6 separate regions of the Homo sapiens genome follow, and all the other regions are reported to be linked to region 3. Evidence: microRNA targets listed by miRTarBase, many of them from high-throughput screens and not tested one by one. Region 3 holds a microRNA gene; each other region holds the end of a gene's coding sequence.

Region 1 (5,094 bases), not on the chromosome of region 3:
AGCTTCCACTGAGCTGACAGGGTTAAAAGATGTAAGTGGCTGACTGCAGAAGTTATTTTCTTTCTGCTTATCCACATACTGTTGATTCTTATTGTCATAGGGAGGAATAACTTGCTGCCCAGTTCTTTAAAGGCACTGCTCTAACACCCTCCCCCACATTCCTGTAATTTCCTCTGTAGGAATAGTCCTGCTCCAGGGGGCAGCTGTGAAGTGGCACTAATTTGTAATAGGATGGGGATAAGGAGCATCTTTAAGAATTATTCTGTATTAAAGCCTGCTACCTTTTCAGCAGCTGAACCTAGGGCATCATTTCCTAATCTAATGTAGCTCCACTTCAACTTAAGGGAAGCTTTTATTGGGATAGGAGATCAGCCTTCTTGATCAGGTCCCGGGTTCCTCTTCATTGCTGCCCCCTCTTCCCAACCTTTTTGGGTTCCAGGTGATTAAGAAGAACAAGCGGGAGCGGGATGAAGATAGCTTGCACCAAACTGACCTGTTTGATAGTCACATGCTGTGGTTCCTTATGCATCACCTGAGACAGAGACGCCATCACCGGGTAAGCTAGGGTTGGAAATGAATTCCCAAGGGAGTGACCCTTTTAAGAGGGCTAAAAAGTTCCAGAGTAGTGACTTCAAGCAGTAATCAGGTGATCTTGGTCGGATTTCCTATCCACTGTCCTCTGTCCCCATCAGATCCCTGATATAGCCTTGGAAGAGACATCAGCAGAAAAGGGTGGTATCTACTTTTGTCCATTGCCGTCCATGTGTAATGCTATCTTCATAAAGGCAAAAGCTGGAGGGTGGAGGAGGGAATTGAGAAGAAATAACAAGTCTCAGTGTGACCCTTCTATTTTTCCTCTTATGCCAAAAGAGGCCTAGTTCAGGGGTTGGCAAACTGGCAGTTGGCCTGCTGCTGGTTTTTGTAAATAAAGTTTCATTGGCTTGCAGCCATACCCATTCTGTGTATTGTCTGTGGCGGCCTTCACGCTACAATGAGTTGAATAGTTGCAATAAAGACCATATAGACCACAAGTCTAAAGTATTTACTCTCTGGCCCTTTAAGAAAAATTCTGCTGATCTCTGGCCTAAAGCATCTAAATTCTGGCTAAGACCTAACAGGCTTGTCCTTGTTCCATCCAGGGAAGTTACTAACAAGCCTTTCCCATCCACAGCGCTGGCGAGAACCTGGGGTTGGGGCCACAGACGCGGACTCTGATGAGTCTCCCAGCTCCTCAGACACATCGGACGAGGAGGAGGGCCCTGACCGGGTGCAGTGCATGCCATCTTGAGGCCTCATACCTAGGTGGGGCAGGCTGGGGCTGCCAACCTGATCCTGCCTGGGCAACCCTTTCCTGTCCCAGGCCCTACATTCAGCAGAAACGCACTTTGGACTTTTTGCTTTAGATAAAAGAAAGACATCCCAGGAGAAGGACAAACCAGAGGAGTGAACCAACAAAGAGTACCTAGGAATGGGAGTTGAGCCCTGGAATGGGGCTCTATGGAGAGGTGCATAGGACTCGGCAGAAATGGCCTCTCCCCAAAGCCTCTTTTTGAGAGGAGAGGGAAGCCTATTTTGTTAACTGGTTTGGGATAGGGAATGGGGTTTCTTTTTCTTTAATCTCCCTTGTTTCTTGGGCTGGGGGAGGGGTGGGGGGAACAACTGGCTATTCAGTACCAAGGGGCCAGAGTGGAGGGTAGGAGTGCCACTCTCTCTTTGGTTTAGGTTTTTGACCTTTTCTTCCTTTGTTTTTTAAAAGTTTATGACAGTTGGCTCCCCCCCCACCCCCAGCAACCCCATCCCAGAATCCTATTTTCCTGGGAAGTCCTTAAAGCCCCTAACCATCCCACACTCTTCACTTTCCTTTCCACCTTATTCATTCTCTGTACTTACCACAGTATTTTGCACTTGATTACATATCCTTCACTCTCTTCTCTTCATCCCATCACCCCCTAAATAGGTCAGGTGAGGGAGGCTGGGAAGAGGTGGGAGGAGGGGCAGAAGTGAAGGAAGAATAGGAAGGATATTACCTCTTCTGTTATTTTTTTAAGAAACATTGTTTGGTGGCAGCAATCTCCCTGTCCCTATCACTGTTAGAGGCCTAATTTTATATCTATAAATATATTAAAAAGCAAGTCAAACTTGGATGTATCAAGGTAAAATTATTGTCAAAGTTTAAATACCTATATATTCTCTGAATGCAATAAAGGGACTTAAGAGTGAACAAGAGTAATGGTGTGGAAGTGACACCTGGGGTCAGTTTACCTCTGTGTATGGTCACTAGAGATTGGGACTTACCCTTTAGGTTTTAGGAGGCTTGAGAATGGAAGGATCCTCATTTCTGCCCTTCCTGGTTCCCTGCTTTGGTGTAGGGGTTGGGAAAAACAGGAAATTCCTCTCAGCTCTGCCTCAGATCTCCTACCTCTCCTTAAGTCTTGTAGGGGGTTCCAAGGATGGCTCTTCTAACCAGAGGCTGGCCTGTCTTTAAAACTTAACTACTTTAGGGTGGTGCCACCACTGCAGACTATTGTGGTACTTTGTGACAGAAGACATGTACACACACACCACACACATACATACACACTCTCTCACTCTGTCTCTCTTACCTTTAGCTGCTTGATCATTAAGCCATCCAACTTCATGCCAGTTCCCTTCTTTATAGAAGAGTGAAGGGAAAGACTTCCTGGGTTTGACTTAAACCTTGTCCACCTCTTGATATTTTAGGATTGAGGAATAAGTCATTAATCTAAGGACTGATTACAGTGGCTGGAGCTTGGGCACTTGTCTTATCACTGGTCACTGAGTCTGAAAGTCCCAGCTGAATTCTTGCCCTTAAGTGCTTTTGCTGCTATTTTTTTGCCCCCAGTTCCACAAGATCCAACCAAGAATTCTGTATCCTGGGACAGTCAGATTCTTCTAAATCAGGCCAGGAAGGAGGGGAAAAGAGTGAGAGAATGGTATTCCCAGATACTTCTTCCTCCTGCCCCTTTTCCCAGCAGCTCTGAGACCAGATGTTGGCTGCTGTACTTACTCCCTGAGGTAGGGAATGTGTGGTGATCGAGTGGTCTGTGTTCCTATTGCTGGTGGGGTGATAGGGTGGGCTAAAAACCATGCACTCTGGAATTTGTTGTATTTTCTCCCAGTAAAGCTTTTCTTCTCCCGACTGCTGCTCTGTGTGGTATGTGGTCCATTTATTCACAATGGATGGTTTTTGTTCCTACTAATGTAGGTACCTAGCCTTCCCCTCTCATTCTGCACATGATACAGTGTTAGAAAGTCCATTTTGGGAGACCCGTATTTCCAGTGCTTGGGCTCCAATTGGAGACTGTTGGAAGTAGGATACACTCCATTTAGCTCAGTGATACTTAGGAGATTGGGTGGGGTGAGGGTATACACTTGGGGTATTTTCCCAGCCCTTATTCTGGGCCATAAATATTGTTCCCCCTCCCTTCCCAGTGATTCAAAGCCTGCAAAATCCTGGTCACTCACAGAAATTTTAAAATCAGTTAGTTGCAATACAATCAATCACCTTTATTCCGGGTTAGAACAAGGCCGTGCACACTGCAGACAGAAGAGCACAAGATAGGGGCAATCTCACAGCAATATAAGGAGTGGGTGGGCAGGTTAGTCTTTTTAGATTATTTTGCCTTACAGAGAAACTACTAGACTCTGCTGAAAAGAACCCTGTCTCTCTTCTCCCATTTCTTCCATAAGAAAGGCTCCTTATTCTCTCTCTCACTCTAATGTAACATATCCCAAATGGAAGGACAGTTCATGCTCATTCCCCCCACCCAATTCTACAAGTATCTCTCTCTTCTTAAGGGAGAAGCCAGACAGGGAAAGGGAGACTTGGGAAGGTCCTTTAAGGCAAAACTGTGGAGTCCTAGAGGTGTGTGTGTTAAGGCAGGTGTCTGCAGCAGTGGCCAGAGGGGCAGGGCACGCTAGGCTGGGCTAGGAGTTAAGAGTACTGTCTAACCAGTCTGGCTTCTTCCTTCTTCCAGCAGCCAGCCCTCCCCTCCCATTAAAGTTTTACTCCCACATCCTAAAAGCTCCTAACTTGAACTTTGTCTAAATAGTCTCTGAGACTGCATGTGAATTTAATGTTTTTTGAAAAAGCCTTCTTTTTTGTTTGGACTATGTAGCAATTTGATTCTGCCACTCCCTTCACTGTGGCATTCCCCTCCCACCCCCGCTCTGGCCTAGACAATAAGTTAATGCTAGACACCACAAAAAAGGGCAGACATGGCAGTGCAGTTTTAATATACATATATGTAGAATATATATGTACACACAGTTAGCACGGTCAGGGTGGGGAGGGGCATCTTGGGGTAGGCAGGAGGCTGGGGTCACTCACTGTACTGTAGTGATGTGGCTAGGAGGTGTTCACAAGCCCAGGGGGCCAGGATATCTAGTAAAGAAGGGTTTCCTAAGTAAGTCCCTTCCGGGATTGAATTGGGGTGGGGATCGGTGCAAAGGAAAACACTGTAGTTAACTTCTTTCTGGCTTGGGATGTTCTTCACCAAGGAGAGAGGGAAGGTTGCCTACAATAACCAAGTTGGGACCCTATAGATGGTGGTGTCAGGATTCGTGTTAAAACCTAAGGGTCTCATTCTTCAACCTCCCTAGGTTTAGAGTGCAACAGTCTGAGTAGGAACAACTGAGTGGAAGAGGGGGCTCCCCTCTCTCTGCCCTCATCCCCATCTCAGGCTCAGTGGTACATGTTCCCAGCACAGTCTCTCCAGAGTACAGGTGGGTGGGGGCATCTAACGCTGGCTGCTCCATGGGGTTTGATCTTAGGGACCAGGAAAGGATCCCTGGCTCATACCTATGCTAGGCCCATGAGAGACAAAAAGGGACCTGCTGGTACTCAGGAAACAGTCCAGCACAGGAGTACAAACATGGAACTCTGGCTTTTCTTTGCCCCTTCCAGGTGGGGGTTGAGTGGTCTCTTTGCCTTCCGTCCCCACTGCTTTTCCCTGGATCCACCTACCTCTCCCATACCTTACCCCTATGTCAGCTCCTCAATGTAGGAAAATGCAGGTCCTTTCTGCTTCCACACTTTAAAGATATGGGGGGAGTGGAGGAAAGGGAAGTAGG
Region 2 (5,094 bases), not on the chromosome of region 3:
TGAGTATCTAGTTGTCCAAGCAACATTTGTTGAAGAAACTGGAAAGACTTTAAAATGAATATGTCCTATGTTGATTTCTTCATTATTGTGATTGCTCTGGGAGCACTTTAAATAGCTATAAAGAAATGTCACAAACCTTTATTATTATTATTATTATTATTATTATTTTTTTTTATTTTTTTTTTTTTTAGGTCAACCTCTGGGAGCACAGAACAATGTTTCAATATTTTTTTTTTTGAGAAGAAGTCTCGCTCTGTCACCCAGGCTGGAGTGCAGTGGCACGATCTTGGCTCACTGCAACCTCTGCCTCCCAGGTTCAAGCGATTCTCCTGCCTCAGCCTCCCAAGTAGCTGGGGTTACAAGTGTATGGCACTGCACCCGGCTAATTTTTTGTATTTTTAGTAGAGACAGGGTTTCACCATGTTGGCCAGGCTGGTCTTGAACTCCTGACTTCAGGTAATTCACCCGCCTTGGCCTCCCAAAGTGCTAGGATTACAGGTGTGAGCTACCACGCCCATCTAGAACAAACTTCTTATGTTTTCAGTATTTTTTACAAAATTGAAGAAATCGGCTTTTTGATAACTTTTATTAGATAACATTTGTCTTCATCTAGGTTGACAAGTGCACTAAAATATCAGACTCCACCACTATACAATTCACCCACGTAACCAAAAACCACTTCTACCCCAAAAGCTACTGAAATGTTTAAAAATTAAAACATTTGGCTTCATCTAAATTAAATTAATGGAAAAAAGCCAAATCAGCTTTTTTTTAGTCTGTATTTTTAAAAATTAGCCTTACTGAAGATACTAAACTGAAAAAAAAAATTTATGCATCTTAAAACAGATTAATCAAACTTTATTGACTCTAAAAACATTCTTACATTGGTAACTTTTATTTTTCAGGGTGAAGATTATATAAAGATGAGTCAGTGATTGAAGCCAATATTCTGATTCCCATGGAAGATGGATGGGCAAGAGTGTACTTCTTGGCTCCATTTACTACCTACTGCTCAGTAGTCATCTCTGTAAATCTGCAATTTCTACCAAAATGTGTGATCGTAGATCTCAAAGGATCTTGCTTTAACTTTCAACACTTAGAAAATCTACAAACATTCAGACCTGTCTGGGTTGGTATTGCCACCCATGACATTTAACATGTTGTGATGCTTGAAAACACAGGAGTAGAGAAAATCGATGAAGATTGTATTTTTGCACCTTAACTCCACATTGCTTTATTGGTTAATTTATATTCTTTCCATGTAATTCATGTAATTGTATGTCTGTGTGTGTTTTATGTGTCACCACCTTTCATGTTTTTGATTGCCCTACAAAGAGAAACCAAATGAGCTGATTACTGACTATAAGTTCTCAGCCTTTATGGACCTAATCTTATTTTTATTTACTTGAGTAATGTTTATTCTCTGCATGAACCATGATTTCTCCTGTGAGCCATTCCAGCATAAGCTGTGAATATGTATTAACAAATATATACATTTCTATTTTTATAATCCATAAGGATATGCCTGTTTTAAATAACATACATATTAACAATATCTATCAGGAAAACCCTCAAGACAGCTTCTAGTTAAAACCTTTGTTGCTGTCCTCTCAAACTATATTTATAAAAATTTGCTAGGGCCAAATCCATACTTGCAGAATAATTCATCAAATTTTATTTTTAAGTGAAAAGTAACCTTTCAGGCATTTCAGCAGCATACATTGACAATCTAGGGTATATATGTATGTATGTTTCTTATTGTATGTCTATATATGTATGTGGGGAGGACAGGAGTGAATGTTCACACACTTTTCTTGCGTACTCAACTAAATTGGAGAATGTTTCTGAAGAAAATTGGATGAAATTAGCTGCTGAGATTGAGTTTCTGCCTTAAAATCTGAAACAAAAAAAGGGACAAATTGCTGGTAGATCTACTGACTGTAGCCATCACCAGAACACTTAGTTTCTTCCCAGACATGAATTTCCTGACAGGCTCTGAGCCAGAAACACACTGTGGGCGTGCATCTGGTTCAGCCCTGGATATGCCTCCACTGTGGAGGGAAGCATTGGAACTGGAGTTGTGCACAGCACCGCAGCTAGTGGGCCTGGCTGGGGGTGCAGAAGGGCAGGGTAGTTCTTTCCATTTCCCCTTGCAGCTACACTTACTTTCTCCCTGACTACCAAATGGAGTGACGGTTGAAGAATCAAGCTCATAATATGATACACCCAGACAGACCCAGAAATCTTTTGATTTCCCCAGCGAGATACTTACCACTCTCTCTTCTCTTTCCCATGGTTAAAACAGGAGTTGTGTTCTCTGTCGCTGCTAAATTATTCTTCACTTGAGTGAAGCAAATATTTAGCTTCCAAATAAAGTATATTTTGTTCTGAACTGGCAGTTTAAGAGGAGATACCGTAGTCTAGATTGTCTTTGAGGTAGAATATATGATGGACCACATAGTTTAAGATTACAAGGTACTTTCCCTCTTCTCTCAGGCCATGCATTTGAATAAAGTGCCTCCCTTAGCCTGAGCTCCTAAAGACCTCTTGTACTTGGTTGCAAACTCAGATCTCTAGTCTAGTCTAGTCTAGTCTAGTCTAGTCATGTGTGACTGTGTACTGAGATACCACTAGCCCAGTTTGCTGGGTCTCTATGTTTTGGAAGTTGGGGGTTTAATAATATTTAATGTCTTTTTAGGATCATAAACATAAATAGGTTTGTTGATATTCAGGCCTTCAGAATTTAAGGGTTTTAAATATAGCATTCAGATTGTAATTGGTATGTTTTTGCCATCTGGTCCACTCAATTGTATATTTTTATTTTGCAAAACAACCCAAAACTTACTTTATGTTGCTTTGTTCAGTACCTTTTGAATTCCCCCAGAAGAGTTGTTTTCAAAACAAACATTCCAGAATGAATGTCGCTCTTCAATGGAACGTCTTTATTGTGCTTGAAGTATTTCTTCTCTGGTTGTAATTCTAAATTACAGAGTCATTTGAGCTTTCTCCCCTCCCGCTAGTATCTTTACAGGAGCAGGGAAGAGCAGTAGAGGATGTATAATTTTGGGCGAAGTTAAATTACAATTTATTTGAGGTTATTCCTAAACCTATTTATTTGGTGTTTTGGAGGAGATCACACACTAAGAGAACGTTGATTGCCTCGGCTATTGTGCTGGCTGGACACTTTGGTCACTTTTGAAGCATGTTAATAAATGTCACTGATTAAAACAGCTGGAGCATTTCCTTCCCTTTCCAGTGAAGGAGCAGCATAGTGAAATCCTGGCACCCCTCACCTTTTTGTGATGACAAGATGGCTGACAGTCACGGAGTCCAGGAGAAGGTGCTGCTCTCCTTGCTTTCTGAGTAAACAGAGTAATGTTTTTTTTCTTATTTTCCCAAAGAAAGAAAAGGGGGAAAATATATTTGTATGTTTAGACCAGCCAAATTCTGTCATTATTTTAGTATCAACCTGCTGTATATTAGAGCAACTGAATATAATATGGAATAAGTTTGACCAGGTCAAGTTTTAGGATATAGTTGAATTTCTTTAAAAAGTTTTCTATTTTATCTAAAATCTTTCCATTATATCTAAATTAGAATGATCATCCTGCGCAAATTCAGATTACTGTTTGCTGGCTAATTGACAGTATTTCTCAGCATCACTATGTAGCATTCTGTTTTAGCATCTTTGAATTATGATCATTTGATTTGGCTAATTACAAAAAGTACAGGTTTAAACTGGACTTAGCTTGAGTTAAAGGCAAAGAAAATCTAAAAACATAAATGTTATATTTCACAAGAAATCAGTTGCATATTATCCATTACATATTTAGTTTTAAAAGGAGGAGTCACCTTGAATTATTTTCTGAGTCACCTTGAGTTATTTGATCTCTCAGCCTGCTTTCTCATCTGTAAAAAAGGGGGGAGGATAACTTTCACAGGGTAATTGGTAGGCTAAATAGGAGTTACAGAAAACTGTTAAATAGGGAAGAACTACATTAAATTTAAATATTCACATTATGCCTGTGTTTGACTATTGTTAGCATTTAAGTCACTAAAGATCAATATATTTAATGAGTTGGACTCTAAATATGTGGTACTGTAGGTATCACATTTCCCAAGTCTTTTTAGCTATATCATGTCTATCTTCGGAATGGTATAGTCGGGGGCCCTTTTTATCAATAATAGCCTTCTATTAATTAGACTAATTTTAAGAACAACTAATACTTCAACTGGCAATATCATCCTATAATTATCCACATAAAGTAGTCTTTCAGGCTGCTAGGTAACTTGGCTGTCTTCTATTCCATCCGTTTTATTTAACTACACGATGGTCATGAATCAGTGGCAGGACTGCCTTGTAAAGTTGTGCTGATTTTGCACTGCACAAAAGTACATAGTTAAGGAGGCGAATGGACTTTAAAATCTAGTTCACATTCCCCTCAACAAGCTACGTGTGGAGGAAGGGGCTCTTGCCTTCTCACCAAGGTGTACATGTGGCACAGGTCTCCCCAGAAGAGGTGTCTTTTTCTAATTTGCCCAAAGGGGATACCTGTCTTAATACATCCACCAGGGGGTGCCTTTTTAAAAATGTGCAAAGCCGTGGTGTGTTGCAGCTGGCTTTTGCTGGCTCCCCAGAGGAGAACCAATTGTGTGCATCTCTTCCCAACTTGATGTTCAGTGACATCAGGTTGGTAGCTTTTAATGGACAATGGTAGGAGTATTTGTATCATAGAAGTTAGTAAATGCTGCAAATTGTGGATCCCCCACCCCCTCAGTCAGTTTCTAACACACCACTGAAAAAGGCCCGATGTAGGCTAGCATTGCATTTCCCAGAGCAGGCACACTGGAGTCCTAAAATGTGTATGATTAAAGGACACATAGACCTGGAAGAACTCTTTTTATAAAGCTGTAGGCAGCTTGGAGTTGTCCGTATCAAATTCAGATTGGTTCACAGACATATGGTAGTTCTGACTCAGAAACTGTTACGGGTCACAGAAAAATACACAGTCCAACTCTAGAAATGACTAGGAAGTGAATCAGCTGAATTACTATTTTTGAGATGGAGTCTTGCTCTGTCACCCAGGCGGGAGT
Region 3 (5,094 bases):
TTCATTTAACACAGTCCAGTCCAAACATTTTTCATGGGCACAACTGAAAAGTGTCACTCCATAAAGAAAAAATAATTGGTAATTTTATACTTTTATAAGAAGTCAGCCAGATGTATCCACACATCACCGTCACCAGAACCACAATCAACTTTTCTATTCCTGTACCTAAATTTTTCTGAGTGCTTAAATATATCCAACAACAGAATTAAGGGGAAGGGAAATGTTCTGGATTGAATTGTGCCCACTCCCTAAAAAATGATAAGTTGAAGTTTTAAACTCCATTTTCTCAGACTGTAAGCTTATTTGAAAACAGGTTCTTCACAAAGGTAAGTGGGTTGAAATGAGGTCATCAGGGTGGGCTCTATTGCCATATAACTGGTGTTCTTATAAAAATGGGAAATTTAGACACAGAGAAAACACACTTATGCAAAAAGAACACCATGAGAAGATGAAGGCAGAAATTGGGGTGATGATTTACGAGACAAAGAATATCAAGGATTGCCAAAGACCAATGGCCACTTGCAGAAACTAGGAAGAGGCAAATACAGACTCTGGAGGGAGCATGGTTCTGCAGAAACCTTGATTTTGGACTCAGATTCCAGAACTGTTAGAGAATAAATCTTGTGGTTTTTTTTGTTTTTGTTTTTGTTTTTTTGAGACAGAGTCTCGCTCTGTCGCCCAGGCTGGAATGCAGTGGTGCCATCTCGCCTCACTGCAACCTCCGCCTCCCAGGTTCAAGCAATTCTCCTTCCTCAGCCTCCTGAGTAGCTGGGATTACAGGTGCCCACCACCACGCCCAGCTAATTTTTGTATTTTTAGTAGAGATGGGGTTTCACCATGTTGGTCAGGCTGGTCTCGAACCCCTGACCTCATGATCCACCCACCTCGGCCTCCCTAAGTGCTGGGATTACAGGCGTCAGCCACCGCGCCTGGCCAAATCATTGTGTTTAAACCACTCAGTTGTTGATGCTTTCTTAGGGACGACCTAGAAATACAGAAGACAGAAGGATCGTGAGACAGTTCGTTATTGTTTGGCGAACTGTAGCTGGACTCCGGCTCATATAATGAAAGAAACTTAAAGGAATGCCTAAGAATATTACTCTACGAGTGTAAGAATTTGGTTTGTCAGTTTAAACTGATATCAGCAGTTACCTAAACCAAGTTTTTTAATAAGAACATCCAGGACTGACATAATGCTATTTTGTTCAGCTCTTTGAAAAACAGCACAAAGCTAGCATCTCTGTGACATTCATTAGGTTCTGTAGCACAACATCCCAGAGGATGCTTTTGGGCTTCCTGCATCTCAGTCACTTAGAATGAACCTTAAAATTCAGATTTTTCAAGGCTCATCCCAAACCTACCGAATCAAAGTGACTTCTTCTGTTGAGTAAGAATGTCTGAGGGTGGAGTGTTCTATTGAGTCAGAATGTCTAAAGTCATTTGTAAACTAATCTCAGATAGATAATCCTTGTATACATTAAGAGAACCACTGTCCTATGTTTACTTGACTGTTTTCATAATGTTTTCCTTCTGATTGTGGTAAAGTTAAAATTGTTTTGAGCTAAATGTGTACCAATATCAGTTTCTGCAGTATAAACAAAGCTTGATTATTTCAAGGTCATGCAGTGAGAACATTTATGCTGTGTGGGAGGAACCTCTAATTCCTTCTAATGAATAACACAAGCAAAATACAAGAAAAACAATGCAAACACTGGAAGGCATAAGTAAGCACATCTGTTTTTAAATGTTCTCCTCTCATTGATTCCTCTAATCAAGGTGCTTCTTTAGATAGCTTACACGTTGAATTATTCATGCATCTGTGCTTTACCAACTCCATGATACTGAAGAGTCTTTGGGCAGTCTCCTGGAGGTGGTAAAACACAAATGCGTGAAAAGGGGGCAGAGAGCATATCTTTGCTCTTGATGTCTTTTTAACCTCTATTGAATCCTCTACAAAACCTATTGCATGGCTTAGACACATTAAACACCCAATAAATTCCTGCTGCCTAATCAGAAGGAAGAAAATCTGATACATGAACACTCCCAGGATAAAATGGGGTGATGGCTTGGACATGCTGGTAACAGAGGTAACATTTTCTATTTCCAAATTGCAAGTTCACCCATAACTGTAATGGAGATGAGTCACTGGGTCAATGGTCATGCTGTAAATTTGTAGCTCTCTGCTAACACTTGAAAATAATTCTTAAAATGATTGTCTTCATTTTATTAGCATGACTGATGACTTGGAAGGGAATCTATAATTGATTACATTCTACAACCAACCTCTGTTACTCAAATGAGTGAAAGTGCAGTTATAAGTAGATAAATCTTGTCTAAGAAATGAAGATAAATTCATATAAATGCATAAAGGTGAAATTGTTATGTAATGGCTATGCCTAATTTATTAAGCATGTCATAATAAGCCTGACAAAAAGTCTAAAAAATATTTTTTGCAAGATACTGAACAGTAACAAAATATTTTACCTGTTGGATGTACAAAATCTTATTTTAACAGCTACTGAACACATTAAAAAAAATACAGCTTAGGCTGGGCGTGGTGGCTCATGCCTGTAATCCCAGCACTTTGGGAGACCGAGGCAGGCGGATCATGAGGTCAGGAGATCGAGACCATCCTGACTAACATGGTGAAACCCCGTCTCCACTAAAAATACAAAAAATTAGCCAGGCGTGGTGGCAGGCGCCTGCAGTCCCAGCTACTCGGGAGGCTGAGGCAGGAGAATGGCGTGAACCTGGGAGACGGAGCTTGCAGTGAGCTGAGATCGTGCCACTGCAATCCAGCCTGGGCGACAGAGCGAGACTCCGTCTCCAAAAAAAAAAAAAAAAACCTCAATATCAATATTTCCTGTATTTTATACTTAAGAATACCACAATTACAAAAGTCACAGCCACAAAAGTGTGAGATCATACAGCTGCCAGACTAAGTGTTCCCCCACAACTCTTTTAACTCACTTTTCATTTGTTCTGTAATCATGCATTCCATCAACAGCCTTTTTTTTTTTTTTTTTTAAATCTGGGCATTGTTTGAGTTGAAAAAAGCTGGGGGTTTGGAAGCAGGGAGGGTACTTTAAGGAAGATGGGTTTTTATCACCAGGTCACTTTCCATCCACAATTCCTTGGTATGGACAGAAGAGAAGGGCATGCCTAGAGCCTGAAGCTAGCACAGAACTCACTAGTTGAAAGAAACAAGGATGGTCAGTGGAAGGGGAGGTAAGGAAAATCTGGCCAGTGGGCTCCATGCCTTGGAGTCATGCTTAGATCCACCTTTGTGAAGGGGTGGACTGCCTAGGTCTTCATAACTACCTGTGCCAGCACTTAGCTCATAGTTGTCACTTATCATGGGTGGGTAAGTTACCAAATAAACAACTTCATCTGGTCTGGTTACTGGGGATTGAAGGATAAGAAACGGTATAGTCTAGGCTGGGTGCAGTGGCTCACGCCTGTAATCCCAGCACTTTGGGAGGCCGAGGTGGGCGGATCACAAGGTCAGGAGATCGAGACCATCCTGGCTAACACGGTGAATCCCCGTCTCTACTAAAAATAACAAAAAAAAAGAAATGGTATAGTCTAGTGTTTCTGGCTGTTAGTCATTGGTAAAGCCAAAATACTCCTGCCTTTGAAGTTTCCTGATGCCTTCTAAACATTATATTTCAATCTGGTGAAGGAATAGGGCTCTAATGAGTCATTTGTGAAACCCTAATCAATAGCCTTGTGGTCTCCCTCATTTCTTATTATCATTGCACACACTACATCCACATGACTGCTTGTAAGACTATTTTTCACCGTAAATTGAACTCAAAATTTGCATATTTCTACCAATTTTAAATTTTGGCTTATGTTACATTTTGTATGAACAAGTTGCTGCCTAGAGTAGAAAAGTGGCATCCAATTAGAAAAAAGGAATTTTTATTTGATGAGGCCCTGAGTTGTGATGACTGGGGTGAAAGGAGAGGTTGGGTGGAGGTTGCTCTATTGTTCTAGTCTACAAAACACCCCATATCTTGACAATGAGTGCCTTTAAAGGGCAAAAACTGAGTGTTCATTTCTTTTAAGTATTCCTGCCGGTAGCAAACATTCGTAATTTATGGGTCAGAACATTTCAGATGCTTTCTCTTCTGGCCTTATTGTCATCTGCCTTATAGCAATCTCTTAATCTCTCTTGATTGTCTTTTATTTTATTCAAGATGAATAATAGTGTGGCAGCTTTTGCTAATTCACTCCATTGGTTATCAAGTCTGGGAGACCCCACTTAAATGTCATATTTTGAAGATGAGGGGACTGAGGCTCAGAGAGGCTGAATATTTTTCGGTTCTTTACAGAGACAATACACAGGAGATCTAGACCTTGTATGCAGATCTTTGAACTCAAAGCCTATTTTTATCTTCAGTACAACAGGAAACATTTATTCAATTCAATTTATTCCCAGTATGGGTTTAAAATTAATTGCCCTTATATGCAATACATTTTATTATTTTCATATGGTTCCTTCAACCAAAAACATTTTTGAGATTCTCTTGTAATTTGTTCTGTCTAGAGGATCCCCTGAGTGACTTTTCAGGATTGCAGATTAATCAAATATTCAGATCCTGGGATCTGCTTCCGCTCAGAAAACAATACCCCAAGGCATGCCTCTTTGACATGCTGAGTACTTCCAACTAAAGAAGCCTTAGAATCAAGGTTGCTTTGACTTTCTTCTGTCCTGTGTCTTTTGCCCCTCTGCCTCTCCTAAAGCACAGGAAGGGGATTTCTTTGGAGTCTCCATGTCTGACTGTAAGGAAAGTTCCACCAGAAGAAAAAATGCATTTGCTCTAAACGCCTTCCTTGGAATCTAAATTAACCAGAGAAGGTGCAGGAGAGCATATTAAAGACCTCCCCACCCAAAACACTACATGCAGACAGACTTTTCATCTATTCTTCTGTTTTGTCTATTCTGCTGCCTGAGAGACTTTGTCTGCATAATAAGACCACTTTTGTTCATAGTGCATTCACTCTACCAACCCTCCCATAGCCTGTCACCACCACCCTCCAGGAGCCTTGAAGCCCCTATTTCTCTCTGTAGCTCAAAATGATATTTAA
Region 4 (5,094 bases), not on the chromosome of region 3:
AAAAAAGAATTCCAGACACTTGTCAACACTAAAAATGTTACTCTAAATGATATTTTGAGTTTACAGGAATCATTCATTTGAATTTTTAGGTTTCTTGAATATCACATCAATAAGTAGAGCTCCTTTCCCCCACCACTCATCATAAGGATCCTGCATACTCTGTTCTGCCAAAGATAGCATTTTTTGTTTCTTTCACTATTCCTTTCAATTACCATCACCATTGACCCACATCTTGTACATTATGAAAAGACTAGAGGAAGGAATATGACGAAAATCACCACACTGCCTGAGCTGTGATTTGGATAATCTGAAATAATAATTTTCACCTAAAGAGCTGGAACTGTGAGGCTGCCAAGACTGGTGTTTAGGGAGTTCATACAGGTGTCACCATGCTACAAAGGAAGCCAGGCACCACCTAAAGTGCCCAGAAAGGCTTTAAAAGAATGTGATTCCTGGTGCTCTAGTTTCTGAAAGTTCGACGACAGGTTGGTGGACTAGGGTTCTCAGTATCACACACATTGAGTGTGTCATCCTCCCCAATCTACTGTCAGCAGGAGGTGGAGAGACAACAAAGAAATAGGAGCACCTCCCCTACTCCGAACAACTCATTTGTTCCTTGGCTATACATGGGATTATATAATTCAAATAATACTTAAATGCAATATAAATATATTTATGTATGTTTTTTGAAAGTCTAGAATAGTCTTTGGCCACATTATCTCTTATATTGAAAAAACATAATTGGTTTATGTTGAAATCACTTAAAGCAAATACTCTTCAGTGGCAAAGGCAAGAATGTTTTCAAGACAATCCACTAGTAATTGCATAGCACAGTGACACAGCCTGTGTCCAAATAATGGTTATATAAGCCAGCCAAGAAATCAACGGACATACATCATTCCTTTTGAGATGACATGACTATACTGTCTAAACTTTAAACAGCATGAAATTCAGAACAAATGTCTGCTATAGGTAGTATCATGTACAGTTCCTCAATTCCTCAGTGTGAAGGGGCAGAGGAAGTGTGGAGGCCGCTAAAACTTGAACCTGCCTCACTGCCTACCACCAGAAACTAAGGCCAATTTCCCAAAGTGAAATCAAATTTTCTGGACTCTGCCTCCTGTCCACAATTCTAAATGATGAGAGGCAAACACAACCCAAGAGACCACCAAAAAGTAATCAGCATTCAGGGCCTTGAATTCTGGCAAAAGGAGAATGACGAATCTTCCTAGATTACCCAATTAGGTAAAATGAAATGAAAAAAAACCCACAACGCTTTTAAAAATACTGTTACATTATAAAATAAGATCTATAAAAATTACTCCTCCCATTTATCACAAGTCTAGGAGCTACTTGTTATTGCAATTGCTTTTTTTTAGGGGAGTGGGGGGGACGGGAATTAAAATCCCTTTAGGAGGTTTTTATATGAATGCCCCTACAAAATCCAAAGTAGGGTTACCGTGCCATGTTCCTTGGAAATGGAAAACCCATCCATATTGTTGGCATTTAAACACAGACATAAATGAAAACTGGAATTTCAAAGCAAAGGCCATGGACTTGTACTCCTATAATAAAGAGGAAAATGAAAAGACTAATGTTTATAGGTCTCTGGGTGTAGAACAAGAATTGAAGAGTTCTGACATACTGGGAAGGGAGAAAAATTCCACATGCAAGACAGACATCCAAAATGGCTCAACATAATTTATTTTTTATGTTAAAATGTACAGAGTTCTTTTGAAAGTACTTGCTAGAAAGGGGAAAAAAAGGTATTACATACAAGGAGAGGAAGGGAGGCCGGCTGGCCCAGGAGCGCGTGACATGGAGAGATACAAAGGCATCTAGGCACCCCTTCCCCTTAGCTTACAAGTCACCATGAACAAAGTACAAAGAGGTTACAAAACAGGAAAAGCAAATATAAACAGACAGGATAGACGTGGCTTCCTTTGTACATGCGGCTTTTAGAGGCATCTGGAGCTCTATTCACACACGCTAGAGATCTCTTTAAAGAGAATTTATCTTTCTTAAAATAGTTTTTAATATTCTACAACAAAGATAAAAAATTTTAAAGATGGAATGAAATGAAAAAGCTCTTATTTTAAAAGGCATCAAAGTCACTAACAGTGAGTTTTTAAATTTCTTTTTTAGAAGATTACCCAAGTTATCTTGCTAAAAATACATTTTTTTTAAACAGAAGTGAAAAAATGACAGGTACCAATATTACTGTGTTGGATAATTTCTTTTATAATATAGAAAAGAACTTTTTTTTTCTACAATAGTTCTACAGTCACAAAGAGGCTTGTGGAAAAGGGAGCTGCCCGATTGAATTTTTTATAAAGAAACAAACAAAACCAAACACAACCGCAAACCAACAGAAACTGATTTCACGGCCCTCATTTCAACAGCTTCTCCTTCTGCCTTGACCCACCCTCCTCCCAATATACCTCCCTCCCGACCCACCCCGTCCCCACCCCAACCAGGAAGCAATGACACAGCTGAAGATGTAGGGCGATGGCAGCACAGTGCACTTTCTACATAGATGACTGGGAACTGGAATAGTATATACAGAGAAACTGGGTCCTACACAGCCTTGCACATGCTCAGAGCTGAGAGCGGGAAGATGTGGAATTCTGCGTTTCTACCTAGCACGCTTGAGAAAGTCAATTAAAGTGTATTAAAAAAACCAACAAACCTGTGCATTTGAAAAAAGTTAATGCCTAATTAGTACTTTAAAAATTTATCTATATAAAATGTACAAATAAAGGAGAGAATTTAATGCTTACAGATATTTCTCTAAGCAGTACTTCCCCCTTTTGGATATTTGACTGCACATACCAAGTGGTATAATAGTTTCCATCTTCTAATGATGGAATATATATATATATATATGTGTGTGTGTGTGTGTGTGTGTGTGTGTATATATATATATATATATTTTTTTTTTTTTTTTTTTTTTTTTTACCTATCCCTGGAGCAAGTAATAGGAAGAGAATGGGCAAACTGGTTGCACGAGAGAAAAGAGAATGGAGTTGGGAGCAACACATGAACTTGCGTTATAACATTCTGCTGTCCAGATCTGCCCTACTGTGCTGGTGGTCGGTCTGTCCCTCTTCTCATTAGCCACTCACAGGAGAGGTGCTTGTGCACTCTGATTCACAGGGGATGAACTCAGGATCTCAAAAGACATACAAAAACTAGAGGTATGTATCACTTAAATAGCTACGAAACTCACACCGTGATCTCCCTTCTGACACACATCTGCGCCATCTCTTCCAACATAAAATAAACTGTTTCAATGGTTTGTCAGTTATTTTTCAAATCACTAAAATGTACAGTCATCCACCAACAATTTAAGAAAGAACCTAAGAGGCAAATCACTGGGGACTGCTATTTGAGTTTTATCAGTCAAAGGCTCAAGCATCAAGACCCTCAGTTAGCATTTCAAAGTACATACTAGAAACAAGAGGCTGGGTGGCGTGTGTGTGCGTTATGGCTGATTCACCAGGTGGTAAAAAAACAAGAGGTTAATCTCCTCTTTTTGATTGTTAATTGACCATCTCTATTCCTCCAAAGGCTGGATTTGGATTGCAAACAGCTTTTCTCTGAGATTCTGCTGTTAATTGAGACTTACAGTATTTTTGTGTCTCTGAGTGCTGAGTGGGAATATTTTAAAAAAGAAGAAAAAAATTATATTACACTTGATTCAAGAACAACAAAGATTTCAATGAAGTCCGTCTATAAAGAAACATTCTTGGGGAAGGGTTTCAAGAGGTGTGTGTGTGTGAGGAGTGGAGGGGATTTTAAAAGGAGAAGCATTTTCCTGCCTCACTTTATTAATAATAATAATAATAATATTAACAATAATAATAAGTTTAAGGAGCTTGGGTTGTTCTCCATGTCCCCATCCGAGTCTCCCCTAAGTGCCTCCTGCTGGAATGAAGTAGGAAATGAAAGGTTGGGTTTGGAGGAAAGGGTCTGGTTAACCCTTGAGATGTATATAACATTTAAAAATGACAACATTGGGAGCTGCAAACAGTGAGGGGAAACATACATTTTAAAATAAAGATAATTCACTTTTACACAAATTCTGTCCATGTGGTATGTAAAGAAAGTAAGGCTCTTTTTAATTATGAAAAGATTTTGTGCATGTTTCCCCATCCCCAAATCCATTTTTAGATGAGTTCTACTGTAAAATGTTCAAGATTGTGAAGAAAACCAAAACCCAGAACAAAATGAACCCAAAAAAAGAGAAGATCAGGTTTTCTAAAAAATAAAATAAACCAAAGAAAAATTCCTCTAAATCTACAGCAATATTTTAACTGGAAAAAGGTCCATTTTTCTCTGGTTTGTCAGTATAAAAGGTTCCTTTATTTATATATATTTAAGTTTTTGATTGCAAGTTCATCTTGCTCATCTTCTCATGTAAGGTCCGTTGAGTGACTGCTTGGGCACGCCAGCAGCGTTCATGTAGCTGTGATGGGAGGGGCCTGTGTACATCATGTTCCCATGAGGGTTAGGCTGCATAGGCTGCTGGGTATAGGCCTGGCTCCCCATCATTCCCATCTGCATCTGCATAGGATACTGTGCTGTCTGGTTCATGTAGGCAGGGTTACTATGGTAACTGCTGTTCATCATGGGCTGTGTCATTCGATAGCTGTTCATGGCATTCAAGGTGTTCATATTCATGGAATTGACATTATAGGCGGGAGTAGGCATCAGATTAACCCCCATGTTCATGCCACGCTGAACAGCCAGTGCGCGAGGGCCAGCCTGCATGGCAACTGCCGATGGGCTACGGCCATACAGCTGCTGCTGGTGAGCAGCCGCAGAGGGCAGTGGCGCAGACTTGGAGCGGATGGAAATGTGCCCCTTCACTGGCATTTGCCCTTGCAATCTCTGCGTGTGAGGAATGCCAATGTTGGTGGCAGACATGTTGCACTGAAGCAGAGGAGATGTGAGGTTCATGGTAGTGGATGCCAAGTTTGGGGGTGGCGTCATGGTGGCTTGTGCTTGAGGAGTCCCAGCTAAGGGATGAGATGGAGCCAGCTGAGCCAGTCCTGTATTGGACAGAGAAACACTGGTTGCATAGGAAGTCAC
Region 5 (5,094 bases), not on the chromosome of region 3:
GAAGGGCGGGTACGAGACCGAGAAGCTGGTGTGGGATCAGGGTCCAAAAACTCGATGCAGGGGCAACCCTCCCTCTTTACTCTCCAGTCCATCCTCTCATCTAAGGCCTCGGCTCAGCCTGTTTCCATGTCTCTCACAGCAATCCCAGGCGGCTGAGGGTGAAAGATTCTAAATACCTTTGGCCCCAGGATCCGCCTCCACCTTCCCTTACCTGCACCAGACAAGTGTGTGCTGCGAGGACGCGCGCGTGTGTGCGTGTGAACTAAGTGTGGAGAGGCGCGTGAACCCAAGCAGAGAGACGGAAATGCAGTCTAGAATCCCAATGCTCAACGCTGAGAGCCGGGAGGGCTTTCGCGGATGCTCGGGTCGAGTGCCCCAAGTTACTGAGGGGAGCCTGGGGCCCAGAGAGGGTGGGGAGCTGGTCTCGACAACACAGCGTTGACACAGCGGCTGAGTCTGCCGCCCTCCCCAGAAGAGGCCTAGATGGGATACCCAGTGGGGCAAGAGTCTAAGACTGGTCTCCCGGGCCCAGGGCCTCCCAGACCTCCGCTCCGCTTGAGTGGGATCAAAGTGTATTTCCGCCCCACTCCCGTGACCCCTGCAGTTGAGGCCCGGCCTCACCTCGTCTGTGGCGCTGACAGTCTCTTGTTTCTGTTCCCACCGGGGTCCGCAGGCGACCGCAGCCCAAGGACCGAGGACGACGGTGTTGGCCCCAGAGGTGCACACGTGTCCGCGCTGTGCAGCGGGGCCGGCGGCGGGGGCGGCAGCGGGCCGGCAGGCGTCGCGGAGGAGGAGGAGGAGCCGGCGGCGCCCAAGCCACGCAAGAAGCGCTCGCGGGCCGCTTTCTCCCACGCGCAGGTCTTCGAGCTGGAGCGCCGCTTTAACCACCAGCGCTACCTGTCCGGGCCCGAGCGCGCAGACCTGGCCGCGTCGCTGAAGCTCACCGAGACGCAGGTGAAAATCTGGTTCCAGAACCGTCGCTACAAGACAAAGCGCCGGCAGATGGCAGCCGACCTGCTGGCCTCGGCGCCCGCCGCCAAGAAGGTGGCCGTAAAGGTGCTGGTGCGCGACGACCAGAGACAATACCTGCCCGGCGAAGTGCTGCGGCCACCCTCGCTTCTGCCACTGCAGCCCTCCTACTATTACCCGTACTACTGCCTCCCAGGCTGGGCGCTCTCCACCTGCGCAGCTGCCGCAGGCACCCAGTGAACCCGCTTGGGCTGAGGCAGCGAGTGATTCCCGCGCTCCGGCTCCGGACCGGCGCTGACAGCTGTAGGCTGTAGCCTGCACGGGGCGCCCCGCCAAGGAGGCACCTGGAGGTGAAACCCAGCTCCAGCTCCCGTTAGCCAGGACTTGTCCCCTGGCAGCTGGGCTGAGTCTGCCCTGAGGGGGCGCCTTTTTCTAATTTGAACAGAGGCACCCTATGGCCTAGGGGCCCTGATCGCCCACCTGCCTGGAAGCCCCTGGGCTCTATTTATTATCATGACAATGTTGGAATTAAATTTTGATTCGAATATGTCTGCCTGGGGGTGGGGTTTTCCCTGAGCGGCAACTCCTGGAGACCACATAGCCTGAATCCTCAGAATTTCAGGCCTGCTGGGAGCTTTCTGCACTAGGCCACACTAGTTCATGGTATCCATGCTACCAATCTATGTGTATCTACATATCTTTTATTTTTGGAAATTGCATTTGTAACCAAGGGGTGCGAAACCCTGGCAGTCCCAGGCAGCACCAGGCCAGGGGTTGATTTGAAACGTGAAGGATTGGGTTTTCAGGCCCTCTGCTCCACCCCTCCTGTGTGTCAGAGCTAGGGTGGGGGTGCCCGATTCGGGTGCTGAATGTAAGGAGGGGAGCCTCCAAGTGTGGTGCAAGCCGGGGGTCTCCACATCTTCCTTCTCTGAAGTCCAGGTACCTGCACAAGCAGGAAGCGCCTGGGAGTCCCGGAAGGAGGAGAGCGCACACCCAGGCAGCCCTCTGCGGAAACTTTCCTTGGTTTCTTTTTATTTGTGTAAAGGAGGTTAAGACGTGTCGCACTTTTCAGTTGTTTGTATTCAAATGACGATTATTTTTCTACTCAATGTGAATATCCCTGGCCAGCCTTTCCACGGCGCCCACCGCAGTGCCGCTGCCTGGCCCTCAGTGTCTACCTTCTGCCCTCTGCGACTCCAGTGCTCTGGCCCGGGACTCCCCTATCCGCCCCTCACTTACCCTTAAACAGGTGATCCCACCTGTCTTGTCAACCTCGCCGCTTTTCGCCTCCTTAATGGCACTGTGCACTCAACTAGAGTATTAACTGTAAAAAGATTTGTGAAGTTTGGAAGCTCTATTCGCTGTATTTTTTCTTTAATTTATAAACTTTTAGTTTAACATGCCCTCCTGGACGCCGCGTTTTCTCTGAAACTGTCTTTTCCCGACTTTTGGGGAACCAGTAAGGCGAGCTGGAAATAGCTGGGGCTTTTTCCAACCTCCTTTTAGTCTCGGACCAAGGATGCTTAGTCTCTCCTGGGAGCAGCCCTGCTGCCCGCCCACTCCTCAGGCAGGTTATAAACCTGGGCAGCTCAGAAAAATCATGACTTCGGGGGCTTTGCAGGAGTAATGGATGAATCCCACTGAAACCGGGAACAAATTCCTAGGATTTCTCCCCATCCTCCCTGTGAGCATTGGTTTCAGAGCCTAGTAAGAGTCCATGGTTGAACCCCCAGCCAATGTCCATCCCCCATCCCAATGTACCGACCCTTTCATCTCCCCTCACCCCACCCCACCCTGTTCTCTGCTTTCGATTTTAGGAGCGTTTCTCTACCTTATCTAGTGTTTAGTTTTGAGAGTGGTTTAGTGAAAACTCCCGCTAAAATTCTGAAGCGATTAGTTGCAAACCAGGCGTGAATAACCTGTCTCTCGGAGAAGGGTCACCCGAGCGTTTTCCTCGGACGGGTGCAATTGGGGCTCTACAAGGTTTCAAAGCGCTTCCCCGCACTCAATGAAAGGGCGTCATTTGGTACACACCGAAGCCCACCCGGGGAGCAGAGAATGGGCAGGGCACCGTTATTTATTACCCCATTTTACAGATGATCATACGCAGCTGGCGCTCCCAGACTCCCCAGAATGCTACGGATTCACTGGAGCTAAATGCTCACTTTCACTGGCAGCTCAAGCCGAGTTCCCGGCGAGCAAGGAAGAGTTAATGCCACATTGCGGGCGTTGAGGCCTCCAGTCCGCTGGACCCGAGTCGGGAAACACCAAAACCCTGGCCAAGGCTTCTTTCAATTTCACCTGGGGCCGAAAGGTCGATTAGCTCTCCAAGGCAACCGCGACTTTTCCCAGCCCCCGGGCCTCCAAGCTTTGGTACCCTAAAGGCCTTGGCCTGGGGTCCCTCAAGCCCTCGGATCTGGCCCGGGCGGAGCGTGGTGACCAGCGTTTTACAAAATTATCCCCGCTTCCAGAAACAGCAAAATGTAAAGGGAGAAGCAAAGGCCCTCGGGATATGCACACTCCCACCCGGTCCCCCACTGGAGTCCAACTACCTTCCATATGGTTCTTGCAATCATCTCGTTTCTTTATAAATGCAATCATCTCGTTTCTTTATAAAATGCTTTACAGTTCTATTTAAATTATACAATTAATCATGACTGTGTTTTTCTTGTAGAGAGTTGGAACATTTCCGATAATACTAGAATCTCCTCCCTTCTTCTCCCCAGGGATCACTACTTACTGAGGGGTTTTTTAGGAGGAGGGATTTTCTCCCTTTCTGAAAAGGCAGTTGCTTGTTGCTGCGTCTTAAGAGGGTAGTTTGTTCTCCATCTTTGCCGATTGGGCGGTGAAAGAATCCGGGAGTTTCTTTAGAGTAGGAAAAGCCACAGAGGTCCCGGTCGCACCCCTGGCGGCTCCATCTTCCACCGCAGACTCCACCTACCCTGCGGACCCGGGCGCCCCTTCCCTTTCTCTCCCACTCTCGGGCCCCCTGCCTGGGCCAGCTCCGCGGACTGGCTCCGGCTGCCCGGGGAAAATGACTCAAATGAATTCAGTTTGATCCAGATTATGGCTGTTTCCCTCCAAGCTGTCCCGCGGTTTGCCTTGGCGAGAATGCCCTGAGGTCTGATTCTGGGAGCTGGAGGCGACCTCTGGGTCCAGCCTGTCCTCCAAGGAGTTCTCGCCGTATTTTGCGACCCAGACCAATGTCTTTACCTGGGTCTTCTGCCGCAGACGCGGCTCCCGTTGAAAATTTGCAGTATTACTTTCTTCCTTTTCTTTACTTTCTCCTCTATCTTCTCTCCGCCTTTCTCTCTTTTTTCTTTCTTTTTTCTTTTTTTTGGAAAGATGAAGAACAGTCCTGCTCCCTACTCGAGGGTATCTCTGTTCACCCACTGCCTGCATCCCTGTGCTGCGCTGAGCCCTCTCGGCCTTCTCTGGGCTTGGTCCCCGGAGCAGTAGCAACTGCCGCCTGGGCCCAATGAACCTTGGGCCTCTTCATCGTTCTCAGTCCCTTTGGCGCTTAGCGAATCTTAGAACTTGGCCTTGGGGATTTTCGAATTAGATCCACCCACTCTACAGATGGGTAAACCAAGGCGAGGGGAATGGCTGGTAAAGGGGGCGGAACATCATGTCACTTGCACTGAAATTGGTCCCAAGGATTCAGGCCGAGCCCACAAATCTTACTCCTAGCAGCAAATTTGGGATCAACCAGCTGCCAAATGTAGCTGGTGGGTCTGCGTGTGTGTATGTGTGTGCGCATGCGTGTGTGTGAGAGAGAAAGAGAGAAAGAGAAAGAAAGAAAAAGAAAGAAAGAAAGAAAGAAAGAAAGAAAGAAAGAAAGAAAGAAAGAAAGAAAGAAAAAGAAAAGAGAGAGAGACAGACCTGGCTAGTCCCAAACCACATCTCATTTCAAGAGATTGGGTATGAGGGCCTCTTGGATCGCCAGAGAGTATCTTAGATGAGCAGGCTGAGTTGAGACTGGGTTCCGGTTTAGAAAATAAATGGTTTCCAGGCTGCACCGAATCCCAGCACCCTCACTGCTCCCCCACGCTGGTAAAGGTGACAGGGTGACAGTGAAGCATCATTCGAGAAGATTGTAATCGGGCTCAAACACAAGTGCCTGCC
Region 6 (5,094 bases), not on the chromosome of region 3:
AGACTTATGAAAATAACAGGCCTGACGAAAGGAGAGATTAAAAAATGGTTTAGTGACACAAGGTACAACCAGAGAAATTCAAAGAGTAATCAGTGCTTACATCTCAACAATGATTCCTCTACCACCATTATTATAGACTCCAGTGATGAAACCACGGAATCCCCAACTGTTGGTACTGCACAGCCTAAGCAATCCTGGAATCCTTTTCCTGACTTTACTCCCCAAAAGTTTAAAGAGAAAACTGCAGAGCAGCTTCGTGTCCTTCAGGCAAGTTTTCTCAACAGCTCTGTACTTACAGATGAAGAATTAAATAGGTTAAGGGCACAAACCAAACTTACCAGAAGAGAAATCGATGCTTGGTTTACAGAGAAGAAGAAATCAAAAGCTTTAAAGGAAGAGAAAATGGAAATAGATGAAAGTAATGCAGGTAGTTCCAAAGAAGAAGCTGGAGAAACTTCTCCTGCAGATGAATCTGGTGCACCTAAGTCAGGGAGTACAGGCAAGATATGTAAAAAAACACCTGAGCAGCTGCACATGCTTAAGAGTGCATTTGTCCGGACACAGTGGCCATCACCAGAAGAGTATGACAAGTTGGCCAAAGAAAGCGGGCTTGCTAGAACAGACATAGTTAGTTGGTTTGGGGACACCCGTTATGCTTGGAAGAATGGAAACTTGAAATGGTACTACTACTATCAGAGCGCCAATTCAAGTAGTATGAATGGTCTGTCTTCCCTTAGGAAAAGAGGGAGAGGGAGACCCAAAGGACGGGGAAGAGGAAGACCGCGTGGGCGGCCTAGAGGAAGCAAAAGAATTAACAACTGGGACAGGGGACCATCACTCATAAAATTTAAAACTGGAACTGCAATACTTAAGGATTATTACCTGAAGCACAAGTTTCTTAATGAGCAAGACCTTGATGAACTTGTTAACAAATCACATATGGGCTATGAGCAGGTCAGAGAGTGGTTTGCAGAAAGACAGAGAAGATCAGAATTAGGTATAGAATTATTTGAGGAAAATGAGGAGGAAGATGAAGTTATTGATGACCAGGAAGAGGATGAAGAAGAAACAGATGATAGTGACACTTGGGAACCTCCACGACATGTGAAACGGAAGCTGTCTAAATCAGATGACTGAAATGTAAGTTAAGAAAATTTTTAATCTGCGTATATGTTCATCAACCACATACATTTTGAACAGTCACCTTGTTGTATCAGTCATCTTCATTTTTGATATTTTCTGAAGTAGTTTTTCTTTTCCCTAATAAGACTAGGTACCACTAGTATAGCTAAGAGATAAATGATTATCATGTGTAGTTTTATTATTATTATGTAGAGTTTAATGTCTTAATTATTATTTTTCATATGAATTGGGTTTTTTTTACTTTGTTTTGAAGGAAAGTTACCCAATCTCTATGAAGGGAGACTGGCAGGCAGGTTGAGGGGATTCACAAACAAATACTAAAGATAACTAAAATGTATTTTATTGCAATGCCCCCTTCACTAAAGCTTCATTTTTTGCCTATTTAAGGAAATAATTCAAAAATGAAAACTAAAAAGAAGGGGAAAAGTACACCAAAGGAAAGACTTACCACAGGGTTGAGGATTGTGCAGTTTTAGGAAACTAGGTGAAAATGGGTATCTTTTCATCTTCATTGCATTGCTCCCAAAACTTTACTAGACTTTTAACTAGAGTTTAAAATGCTTTATGTATTTATGAAATTACTCAGTATCTTTTTAGTAATTTATAAAATTACTCAATATCTTTTTCTGTTAAAAGTCAAAGGTCTGTTTTAGGCCATATATAAATTCATGTTTGCTTAGGCGGCATCTGTCTTTGAAAACTGTGATATAAATTATTTCTGTTTTAGAGATCAAAAGGCAAATAACAGATTTGATATAAACCCAATTGCTTAAAATATCTTTTCATTCTTTGGTATAAAACAAACCTGCTACCAGCACTAACATTGTATTTGATTTAAAGTATATCTCTGTAGTCTTAAAAATGCAAATAAATATGGCTTAAATTTGAAAGGTTTTGGCATGTTCCTTAAATCTTAGTTCTTTTATAAATTGGATTAATTAAAGTTGAACTGTAGTTGCAAATCAGATACCTGCTTTGGAGTTAGGAATTGAATTCTTAATACTTCTGGAATTTAATAACATAGTTTTATTCTTTGCTATTCTTTGTTTTGGAGTGTTCCGGGGTAAAAGTACACTGTTTTGAAAACAATGCAGTTGTCATGAAATGTTTGTGTATGTCTGTCAGTAGTCCAAATAGCATCTTGCTATCAGAAATGACTGCTGTGTTCAAACAGTAAGGAAGGAAATGAGACGTAGACCCTCATTATTATTTTATACGTGAGCATGCTTACTTATTTCCTTGGCTTTTTGCATGAGTATCCCATCCCCTACTTTTATGCTCTGTTATTCTGTGCAGTTTTTCCTTAATTCCCTTACATCTTCTCTCTGGTTTTATTTATTTTAACAATTATTTATAGAGAGCTTAATATGTACCAGGCACTATTCTTACTGCTTGGCAATCCTTTTTCAGGTTTTCTCCTTGTTAATATTTTTTAAGGGATAACAGATGAAACTAAAAATGTACCTGTTTTAATAAGCAGTATAAATATCATTCCAGGTTATAGGGTATAATGTAATCATTTTAGGTTATAAGAAGTTAAACAGTTTCATACAGCTTTATCCTGAAGTGCAGCCCTCCATTTCCTAATGTCAGAAATCTTCAGAGCAGGCTTTCTTCTGACCCAGATACATAAAATATTTTTAACAGGCATTTTTTTTATTGCTAAACACAAGAATGTGCACTCAGCCAAGATTAAATCAACAAATTTGTTGCTGCAGTGAATGTTGTTGTTGTAACCTCTGCAATGATTTTTTTGGGGAGTTGCAGTCTTCCAAAAATAATGTGAATTTTTCTGTACAGTTTAGTTTGACCTTTAATTTTGTATAGATAATTCTTATGTTATATATTAACACTGTAATGGATACTAATTCTGGTCAGAAAATTCATCCTAAAACTACAGTTTTCAAAAGACTGTATGATGTATGCTATACATGCACTGTATTAGTCCATTTTCACACTGCTATAAAGAACGACCTGAGACTGGGTAATTTATGAAGAAAAGAGGTTTAGTTGACTCACAGTTTTGCCGGCTTAACAAGAAGCATGACTGGGAGGCCCCAAGAAACTTACAGTCATGGCAGAAGGCGAAGGGGAAGAAGGGGAAGCAAGCACATCTCACCATGACCGAACAGGAGAGAGAGCGAAAGGGGATGTTCCACACAACTTTCAAACAACCAGATCTCCTGAGAACTCACTCACTATCATGAGAACAGCCAGAGGGGAAGTCCACCCCCATGATTCAGTCACCTCCCACCAGGCTCCCTCCCCCGACACTCCCTGATTAAAAGTTATGTATGGGCTTATACAATTTCAAATGTAAAAACAGCCTATTTACATATGTTGAAACAATAAGATTTTGTGGTATCACTGTCCCTTAATAATTACAATTCAAGGTAAGATTTGGATGGGGACACAGAGCCAAACCATATTATATACTTTTGTGATAGCATAGAAGCATGCCTTTTTAAATACACAAAAGTCTAAATTTCTGAAACATCAAGTTATCCTTGGCTGAGTAAAATAATTTTTCACTTATAAGAGGATTCACCATAGCCTTCTCTAAATAGTTATTTCTTCATTTAAATATTGTTCAATTTACCAAAAAAGTTACCAAAACCTTCCCAAAATAGTTATTACAGGAAGTGAGGTACATATATATCTTTTGCACCTTGTATAGAAATAGAAAAAAGTACAAGTCTTTAGATTTCATAGTCTGCTTATTACAGATACTGACAATGAAATATATACTCCCTGCTCATACAGTTTGAAATAAATTATTACATAAAGATGATAAATGTTTATAAGCAAATCTAGCATATGAAGAACATATACATAGATGAGTTGCACACAAAGCCTAGTGTATTATGGAAGACATATGTGGCAGGTAATCTCAAGAGAATACAAAAGATGTATTTTCACTTTTATTTCTAAAAGTAGTAAAAATTAAAATATGGTTTTCTTTAAATTTTCAGTTTTTTATGATGTTTTTCTTTTTTAGCTGCCTAAAACGTTGAAGGAGAATCAATTCTTCAACTCAAGATGTCTGATTTACTGTGAATTTGCCCAATCTTTGATGACATTGAAAACGTTTTGGGGCATACACACTCAAAAAGCAGGATCCAATACCCAAAAGAAATGGAACTTAATGTTGTGCCAAAGTTAAACTACTGCAGTTGGTGGAAGTTCTGCAATGTAAATAGAACACTAATTAAAAAACAACTTGTAAAAATGCAATTTAAATTTTAATACAGTACATTTTTCTTCTAATATGATGGAGACATTCTGAATCTTAGACTTTCTGAGGGGGTTTAATGACCACTAGAGCTTGTCCTCATATTCAGTCCAGTTTAATACTGTATGTCTAGTAAGATGGGCTATATATTGCCTCTATTCTTTGAGATGTGATTAAGCTTAGAACTTTGACCAAAAATTTTACAGTAAAAATTGTTAGAAATGGGTAAAAAAAAAAAAAAAAAAAAAACCCTGATTTATTACTATGTCTTATTTATCAGACCCTGCACTAAGATTAAAAGTTGTGCATGGGCTTATACAATTTCAAATGTAAAAACAGCCTATTTATATATGTTGAAACAATAAGATTTTATGGTTTCACTGGCCCTTAATAATTGGATCCTTCATTAAACACATCCATGAATACCACTGTTTCTACTGTTACTTGTTCCATTAGAAGCTGATTTGCTTTTTATTAAACTGCAGGAAATTAATTCTGAAGAAGGAAAAGAAACTGACATGGTAATTTGGATAGGGTGAAGCTTTGAAATAAATACTGCACCAAAAATGTGAAAAAGAATCACGTAGTAAATGTATACTTAGTGTTTTCTTACAATCGTGGAAATCAGAAATGTTTATACAGGTGTCAGATCAGAATTTTTAAGAGTTATCTTTCAGTGAAATTTTATAACAGTTTCAGTGAATAGAGAAAAAATTCTG

Evidence for each region. The annotated mature microRNA hsa-miR-2681-5p reads GUUUUACCACCUCCAGGAGACU and lies in region 3 at 1,859-1,880, opposite strand. An mRNA with a match to its seed (bases 2 to 7 or 8) in the 3' UTR can be bound and repressed. Matches are read on the target gene's strand: a 7mer-m8 pairs with bases 2 to 8, a 7mer-A1 pairs with bases 2 to 7 and ends in A, and an 8mer does both.
Region 1: miRTarBase lists DCAF8 as a target of hsa-miR-2681-5p. Seed matches in the 3' UTR shown: 7mer-m8 at 2,153-2,159.
Region 2: miRTarBase lists CREBL2 as a target of hsa-miR-2681-5p. Seed matches in the 3' UTR shown: 7mer-A1 at 3,912-3,918.
Region 4: the mRNA of KAT6A is a reported target of hsa-miR-2681-5p. Seed matches in the 3' UTR shown: 8mer at 2,953-2,960.
Region 5: miRTarBase lists NKX3-2 as a target of hsa-miR-2681-5p. Seed matches in the 3' UTR shown: 7mer-A1 at 2,296-2,302.
Region 6: miRTarBase lists ZHX1 as a target of hsa-miR-2681-5p. Seed matches in the 3' UTR shown: 7mer-A1 at 4,366-4,372, 7mer-A1 at 4,581-4,587, 8mer at 4,600-4,607 and 7mer-A1 at 4,705-4,711.

The regions. Positions count from the first base shown.
Region 1 is chr1:160,213,786-160,218,879 of GRCh38, reverse strand. DCAF8 (DDB1 and CUL4 associated factor 8) reads left to right here. Exons shown (of 14, transcript NM_015726.4): 12 at 1-31; 13 at 440-556; 14 at 1,172-3,160. The coding sequence ends at 1,288. PEA15 (proliferation and apoptosis adaptor protein 15) reads right to left here. Exons shown (of 4, transcript NM_003768.5): 4 at 3,508-5,094. Among named protein-coding and RNA genes, the nearest start is that of PEA15-AS1, 7.5 kb to the right of the region's middle.
Region 2 is chr12:12,641,089-12,646,182 of GRCh38, forward strand. CREBL2 (cAMP responsive element binding protein like 2) reads left to right here. Exons shown (of 4, transcript NM_001310.4): 4 at 906-4,020. The coding sequence ends at 910. Among named protein-coding and RNA genes, the nearest start is that of CREBL2, 32 kb to the left of the region's middle. RefSeq lists an enhancer at 2,224-3,423 and a silencer at 4,448-4,507.
Region 3 is chr13:101,965,846-101,970,939 of GRCh38, forward strand. MIR2681 (microRNA 2681) reads right to left here and starts at 1,901; the gene lies at 1,797-1,901. It also overlaps a transcript of FGF14 not described here.
Region 4 is chr8:41,927,798-41,932,891 of GRCh38, forward strand. It overlaps KAT6A (lysine acetyltransferase 6A), which reads right to left. Exons shown (of 17, transcript NM_006766.5): 17 at 1,682-5,094. The coding sequence ends at 4,408. Among named protein-coding and RNA genes, the nearest start is that of KAT6A-AS1, 120 kb to the right of the region's middle. RefSeq lists a silencer at 3,274-3,568.
Region 5 is chr4:13,538,108-13,543,201 of GRCh38, reverse strand. NKX3-2 (NK3 homeobox 2) reads left to right here. Exons shown (of 2, transcript NM_001189.4): 2 at 674-2,372. The coding sequence ends at 1,209. Among named protein-coding and RNA genes, the nearest start is that of NKX3-2, 3.9 kb to the left of the region's middle. RefSeq lists a silencer at 769-898.
Region 6 is chr8:123,249,368-123,254,461 of GRCh38, reverse strand. It overlaps ZHX1 (zinc fingers and homeoboxes 1), which reads left to right. Exons shown (of 4, transcript NM_007222.5): 3 at 1-1,140; 4 at 4,142-5,094. The coding sequence ends at 1,137. The region is part of intron 2 of ZHX1-C8orf76 (ZHX1-C8orf76 readthrough); the gene reads left to right. Among named protein-coding and RNA genes, the nearest start is that of C8orf76, 11 kb to the right of the region's middle. RefSeq lists an enhancer at 3,208-3,417.